2 linked regions of the Homo sapiens genome follow. The protein of the gene in region 1 purifies or fractionates together with the protein of each later gene. This does not show direct contact. Each region holds a gene or a part of one and is shown in the gene's direction. Other genes may lie near its edges.

What was found. Proteins that work in one complex are often made in the same cells at the same time.
Region 2: the proteins of TRIOBP (region 1) and RASSF8 purify together in Homo sapiens (co-immunoprecipitation; one large-scale study listed by IntAct). This does not show direct contact.

What each region holds. Positions count from the first base shown.
Region 1 is NC_000022.11:37,724,546-37,728,199, forward strand, and holds part of TRIOBP (TRIO and F-actin-binding protein), read left to right. Parts: coding exon 1-1,958; intron 1,959-3,654.
Region 2 is NC_000012.12:26,063,045-26,066,698, forward strand, and holds part of RASSF8 (ras association domain-containing protein 8), read left to right. Parts: intron 1-1,453; coding exon 1,454-2,343; intron 2,344-3,654.

The sequences.
Region 1 (3,654 bases):
AACAGAACCATCCAACAAGAGAACCCCAGAACATCCTGTGCCCTACGGGACAATCCCAGAGCCTCCTCTCCCAGCAGAACCATCCAACAAGAGAACCCCAGAACATCCTGTGCCCAACGGGACGATCCCAGAGCCTCCTCTCCTAACAGAACCACCCAACAAGAGAACCCCAGAACATCCTGTGCCCGACGGGACAATCCCAGAGCCTCCTCTCGCAACAGAACCATCCAGCGAGACAACCCCAGAACATCCTGTGCCCAGCGGGACAATCCCAGAGCCTCCTCTCCTAACAGAACCATCCAACAAGAGAACCTCAGAACATCCTGTACCCGACAGGACAATCCCAGGACCTCCTCTCCCAATAGAGCCACACGAGACAACCCCAGAACATCCTGTGCCCAGCGGGACAATCTCAGAGCCTCCTCTCCCATCAGAGCCACCCAACAGGACAACCCCAGAACTTGTATTCAACAGAACATCCCCAGATCATCTTCTACCCAACAAGACAACCCTAAAACCTCTTGTACCAAACGAGATAACCTCAGACCCACTTGTACACAGCGGGACCGCACACAGTCCTTTTCCTTTCAACGAGACAACCCTGGAACCTCCTCATCTCAATGCTGCACCCAAAAGGAGAATCTGAGACCATCATCTCCCCACCGCTCCACTCAATGGAACAATCCCAGGAATTCATCTCCCCATCGTACTAACAAAGACATCCCCTGGGCCTCGTTTCCCCTCCGGCCAACTCAGAGTGATGGTCCCCGAACCTCTTCCCCATCTCGCTCCAAGCAAAGCGAGGTTCCCTGGGCATCCATCGCCCTCCGGCCAACCCAAGGTGACAGGCCTCAGACATCCTCTCCCAGCAGGCCAGCCCAGCATGACCCACCCCAGTCCTCCTTTGGCCCCACCCAGTACAACTTGCCATCCCGGGCCACCTCTTCCTCCCATAACCCAGGCCACCAGAGCACCTCCCGAACTTCCTCACCTGTGTACCCCGCTGCCTATGGGGCTCCCCTGACCTCTCCTGAGCCCTCCCAGCCTCCATGTGCTGTGTGCATTGGGCACCGGGATGCCCCTCGAGCCTCTTCGCCCCCTCGCTATTTGCAGCACGACCCCTTCCCCTTCTTCCCAGAGCCCCGCGCCCCTGAGAGTGAACCGCCCCACCACGAGCCTCCCTATATACCACCTGCTGTGTGCATTGGACACCGAGATGCCCCCCGGGCGTCCTCGCCCCCCCGCCACACCCAATTTGACCCCTTCCCCTTCCTCCCAGACACATCAGATGCCGAGCATCAGTGTCAGTCCCCCCAACACGAGCCCCTTCAGCTCCCTGCACCTGTGTGTATTGGGTACCGAGATGCACCCCGGGCCTCCTCCCCACCACGCCAGGCCCCAGAGCCTTCCCTCTTATTCCAGGACCTCCCCAGGGCCAGCACAGAGAGCCTTGTCCCTTCCATGGACTCTCTGCACGAGTGCCCCCACATCCCCACCCCTGTGTGCATTGGGCACCGGGATGCACCCTCCTTCTCATCCCCACCACGCCAGGCTCCTGAGCCATCCCTCTTCTTCCAGGATCCCCCTGGAACTAGTATGGAGAGCCTGGCCCCCTCCACTGACTCTCTGCATGGCTCCCCAGTGCTGATCCCCCAAGTGTGCATCGGGCACCGGGATGCACCCCGAGCCTCCTCCCCACCCCGCCACCCACCCAGTGACCTAGCGTTCCTGGCACCCTCACCTTCACCGGGCAGCTCTGGGGGCTCCCGGGGCTCAGCGCCTCCCGGGGAGACCAGGCACAACTTGGAGCGGGAGGAGTACACTGTGCTGGCCGACCTGCCCCCACCCAGGAGGCTGGCCCAGAGACAGCCAGGGCCCCAGGCGCAGTGCAGCAGCGGGGGCCGCACCCACAGCCCTGGCCGTGCAGAGGTGGAGCGCCTCTTCGGGCAAGAGCGCAGGTGAGCCCGGGGGTGGGGTCAGCCAGGTGGGCTGGGGAGGAGGCTCGGCAGCAGGACAGGTGAAGGGTTAGGGTGCCAAAAGAAAGTGTTCAAATCCCCCTGGCTTGCCATTTACCGGCTGTGTGACCTTGGGCAAATCGCTCCATTTCTCTGTTTCTGCATATTGGGAGTTTTCTGTTTTGTGTGTGTGTGTGGTTAAGTGATGTCATGCACAGCCCAGTGGTTAACAGCAAAGACTGCAGTCAGGAGGGCTGAGTCCAAATCCTGGGTCAAAGCCACATGTCAACTCGTATGACCTGATATAGTGAGTTAACCTACCTGAGCCTCAGTTTCCTCATCTGTAAGGGAGGGGAACATGAGCACATTCATTCAAATAAGGGTGAACTGTCTTTTTATTTTTTATTTTTTGTTTTTTTTTTTGAGGTGGAGTTTTGCTCTTGTTGCCCAGGCCGGAGCGCAATGGTGCAATCTCGGCTCACTGCAACCTCCACCTCCTGGGTTCAAGCGATTCTCCTGCCTCAGCCTCCCGAGTAGCTGGGATTACAGGCACGTGCCACCACACCCGGCTAATTTTTTTGTATTTTTACTAGAGACGGGGTTTCGCCATATTGGCCAGGCTGGTCTCGAACTCCTGACCTCAAGTGATCCACCCGCCTCGGCCTCGCAAAGTGCTAGGATTACAGGAGTGAGCCACCGTGCCCGGCCAAAATGAGAGTGAACTCTCAAACCCTTTGATCCAGACTCATGGGTTTTTTTTTTTTTTCTTCCGTGCATGAGGGAGAAGAAGAAAGTACCCATGATTTTTTCCTGCCTTGGCAAAGAAAACTCATGGGTCCCTATGCATTTCAGAAAACAGTTATGTCAATTTAAAATGTATGGCCAGGGCCGGGCACGGTGGCTCATGCCTGTAATCCCAGCACTTGGGGAGGCCGAGGCGGGCGGATCACAAGGTCAGGAGATCGACAGCAGCCTGGCTAACACGGTGAAACCCCATCTCTACTAAAAATACAAAAAATTAGCTGGGCATGGTGGCGGGCGCCTGTAGTCCCAGCAACTCGGGAGGCTGAGGCAGGAGAATTGCTTGAACCTGGGAGGCGGAGCTTGCAGTGAGCCGAGATCGTACCACTGCACTCCAACCTGGGTGACAGAGTGAGACTCCATCTAAAAATAAAAATAAAATAAAAATGTATGGCCAGAGCTACCTATTTTAAGAAAGAAAGCTCACAGAATTATGGATTTTTAGCAGTCAAACATCCTGGGACACCTGAAGTCCAGGTGTCTTTTGAGTCTCCTTGGTCAGCAGCACTGGCCCCCTGGAAGGGGAGCATTTCCTCCTGATCAGGCTGAGGTTTCTCTCCCCAGAAGTTCCAGCCCTCGAGTTTTCAAGAATCAGAGCTAGAATTCCATTAGTTAGGGTCAAGAGAACAACAGCAACAAAAAGCAGTCTGGAAGTCTCAAAACTTTCCATGTATATAATTCAACGAATTTTTAGTTTATTTACCAAGTTGTCCAACCATTGCCACAATCTAACTTTAGAACATTTTCATCACCCTAAAGGGTATGGAATATTTTGTATCTAAAATTCCTCTTTGCTGCTCCTTGGGAAAGTTTTCTCCTGGATTTGAATCTGCATGAGAAACCTTATCAGTCTTGGCTGGGTGCAGTGGCTCCCTCCTGTAATCCCAGCACTGGAGCT
Region 2 (3,654 bases), on another chromosome or scaffold:
ATATTTACACATCTAGATTTCCATTTATTGATGCAGTAATTGCAAAAATACTACTATTGGCTCAGAAGCTCATGAAATTTAAAAAAGAAAGCCAGGAAGGTAAATCAATCAATAGCTGTTTATACAAGTATAATTGCTGGATGGCAGCGTTGGTTTTTTTTCTTTGTAATTATTTATGTACACTTTTCACAAAATTTAAATAATCTATCTGACCCACTCAAATGAAAATATTTAAAAAGCATGTTCAAGCTTATGGCATTACAATCATATTCTTCTGAAACTTTATCTTACTTTCATAATGATTAGATTCAGTATATTTTTCAATGTATATGTGATTGTATTCTGGTGTTTGTTTGTTTTGTTTTTTTTTTGAGACAGAGTCTTACTCTGTCACCCAGGCTGGAGTGCAGTGACACAATACAGCTCACTGCAGCCTTGATCTCCCAGGATCAGGCGATTCTCCTATTTCAGCCTCTCAAGTAGCTAGGACTACGGTGCACAGCACCATTCCCGGCTAACTTTTTCATATTTTATTTGTAGAGACAGGGTTCTGCCATGTTGCCCAGGCTGGTCTCAAACTCCTGGGCTCAAGAAGTCTGCCCACCTTTGCCTCCCAAAATACTGGGATTACAGGTGTGAGCCACTGCACCCAGCCTGCTGGTTTGTTTTTAACAATATTTTGCTTTGAGTTTTTTTTTTTTTTTTAGAAGAAGAATCTCTGATACTATCATATTACCAAAACTGAACAAGTCTTCTCTTCAGGCCCCTCTTTTTATATGAATTTGTTTTGAAGAGTTTTTTTCATTGAGCTGGTTTTTTGTTTGTCATGGGTGTCCAGGAAGATGTCAGCTGTGTGAGCGATGGGTTGGTGGAGCACTCAGGTGGAGATGGAGAGGAGACCTGGGCACCTCCTGTGGCTGAGTCACAGTTCTCCACTGGTCCCCATGTCTCCTTTCAGGAGGAGAAGTGGGGCCTCCAGCCCTCCCAAGTTCTGATGTGGAAAAAAGCCGAGGGATTTCCACAGTGGAAATGTATTTGAGTTTTGAAGTTCCACCTAGTTCCTGGACCAGCCCCTCATGTTTCACATGGCGATTCTGTTGTCCTTTGTTTCAGCTAGAAAATAAACTTTGTTCAGTCTTGCCCCAAATGAGAAGTTCTAGGCAGCCAGGTATTTGGCAAGAGTATAAGAGTCCCACCAAGGTTTAAAGTATAAAGTTGAATTTCTAAGCAAGCCTAAAGAGTATGTGCAATACACATCTTCTGATTTTATGTTGTTACATGTCGTGAGGGGTTTGGTATCTTCAAGTAAAGGTTTTAAAGGAACCTGAACTAGACTCAAACTTGACCCTCTGATGCTAATCGAAAATACACAATCATCAAATGGCATTCTTACTCCATTTTTTAACTATTACATATCCCATTTTGACAAGTTATTCTTACCTTTTTTACATAGGTCGAACTGGAAGGTACACCCTTATAGAGAAATGGAGAGATACTGAAAGACACTTAGCACCTCATGAAAATCCTATCATATCCTTAAACAAATGGGGGCAGTATGCTAGTGATGTGCAGCTCATTCTACGACGAACTGGGCCGTCTCTCAGTGAGCGACCCACTTCAGACAGTGTGGCTCGAATTCCTGAAAGAACTTTATACAGGCAGAGTCTGCCCCCCTTAGCTAAACTGAGGCCTCAGATTGACAAATCAATCAAAAGGAGGGAACCGAAAAGGAAATCACTGACATTTACAGGAGGTGCCAAAGGATTAATGGACATTTTTGGAAAAGGTAAAGAAACTGAGTTTAAGCAAAAGGTGCTGAATAACTGCAAAACAACAGCAGATGAGTTGAAGAAGCTAATCCGTCTGCAGACAGAGAAGCTTCAATCCATTGAGAAACAGCTGGAATCTAATGAAATAGAAATAAGATTTTGGGAGCAAAAGTATAATTCCAACCTTGAAGAGGAAATTGTCCGTCTAGAGCAAAAGATCAAAAGAAACGATGTAGAAATTGAGGAGGAAGAATTCTGGGAAAATGAATTACAGATTGAACAGGAAAATGAAAAACAGCTGAAGGATCAACTTCAAGAAATAAGACAGAAAATAACAGAATGTGAAAACAAATTAAAGGACTATTTGGCACAGATCCGGACTATGGAAAGTGGTCTTGAAGCAGAAAAATTGCAACGGGAAGTTCAAGAGGCACAGGTCAATGAGGAAGAGGTTAAAGGAAAGATCGGTAAGGTCAAAGGGGAGATTGACATTCAAGGCCAGCAGAGTCTGAGGTTGGAAAATGGCATCAAAGCTGTGGAAAGATCTCTTGGACAAGCCACCAAACGCTTACAGGTAGGGACACTTTGATAAATAGAATGTTTGGCCCATGTAAAATAGTATCTTCTTGGAATCTCCTTTTCATCATTGTCAATTTTTCCTTATATTCAAAGAATTAGAAACCCAGCCTTGTTTAAAACTTTTGTCGAACTCTTGTGACTTACGACAGCTTAGATGGGAGCAGTAGCCTTGCGGATCCTTCTCCATGGAAGAGCCTTGTCTTACTGTGACAGTTGTAGCGTTAGATAATGGGATGGAATGGACACTAATGATGAGATAGTGAATCTCACCTTCTCCTTTCAGAGATAGGGAAACTAGAGCTGAAAGAGCTGTCCATGGATTGGTTGGCCAGGGATTGTTGTGGCTAGCTGACTGCTTATCTGTCACTTCTCCATTGTTGCCAGCCAATCCCAGCTTCTTTCCTGACACATAAACAGCCCCCGTCCCTTCTCCCCTCTCCACAGTACCCTCCTTTGCTTTCCTGAGAGAGGCACAAAGATTTCTGTCTGATTTTCCCCCTTTCTAGTTCACATACGAGAAGTTCTATTTTGCCACTTAAACCCTAATCACTCAACTTACATTTCTTGGATACCCATTCTTGAAAAGACCCTGTGATTATGTTGCGGAAGTTGCAAAGATGTATCAAACAGTCTGTATCAGATGGGACGAGAAAGAGACACAATTGATTACAATATGGCTACTTAAATTTAAATTAAGATTAAATAATAAGGCAGTTAAATTATTAAATAATTTAAAATTCTGTTTTTAGTCACACATGGTCACATTTCAAGTGCCCAGTAGCTGCTGTACGGGCCGTGCAGACACAGAACATTTCCACCATTGAAGGAGGTTCTGTTGGACTGTGCTGGTTTAGAGCTTACGATTCAAAGTGTAGTCCATGCCAGGCAGCTCCAGGGTACTACTTGTAAGAAATTCAGAATCTACATTGAAACAGGATGCCCAAGTAATACCTGTGTACAGTGAGGTTTGAGAAGAGCTGCTTTAGAACATCAACAGTTAGTTCCACAATCAGAGAAAGCTGAGGTTTTAGGAAGAACTGATGTGATCTCCTTTCTCCGTCATTATCTGTAGTAAGAGATAAAACTACCACCCAAATTTTGAAAATCAAGAATTTCTCATGCAGTAGAAGCTTGTCAGCCTCTAATTTGTCAGTATTTTACTATTGGGATTCATTTTGACATTTAAAAAAAGGTACAAGTGGAAGTTGTGTTGCTTTTGATATCACAGAAAACACTAACTTATCACAGTCATTACTAGCAAATCCCTCTACCCACTGAAAAGTGTCTGATAATCAAATATTGATAT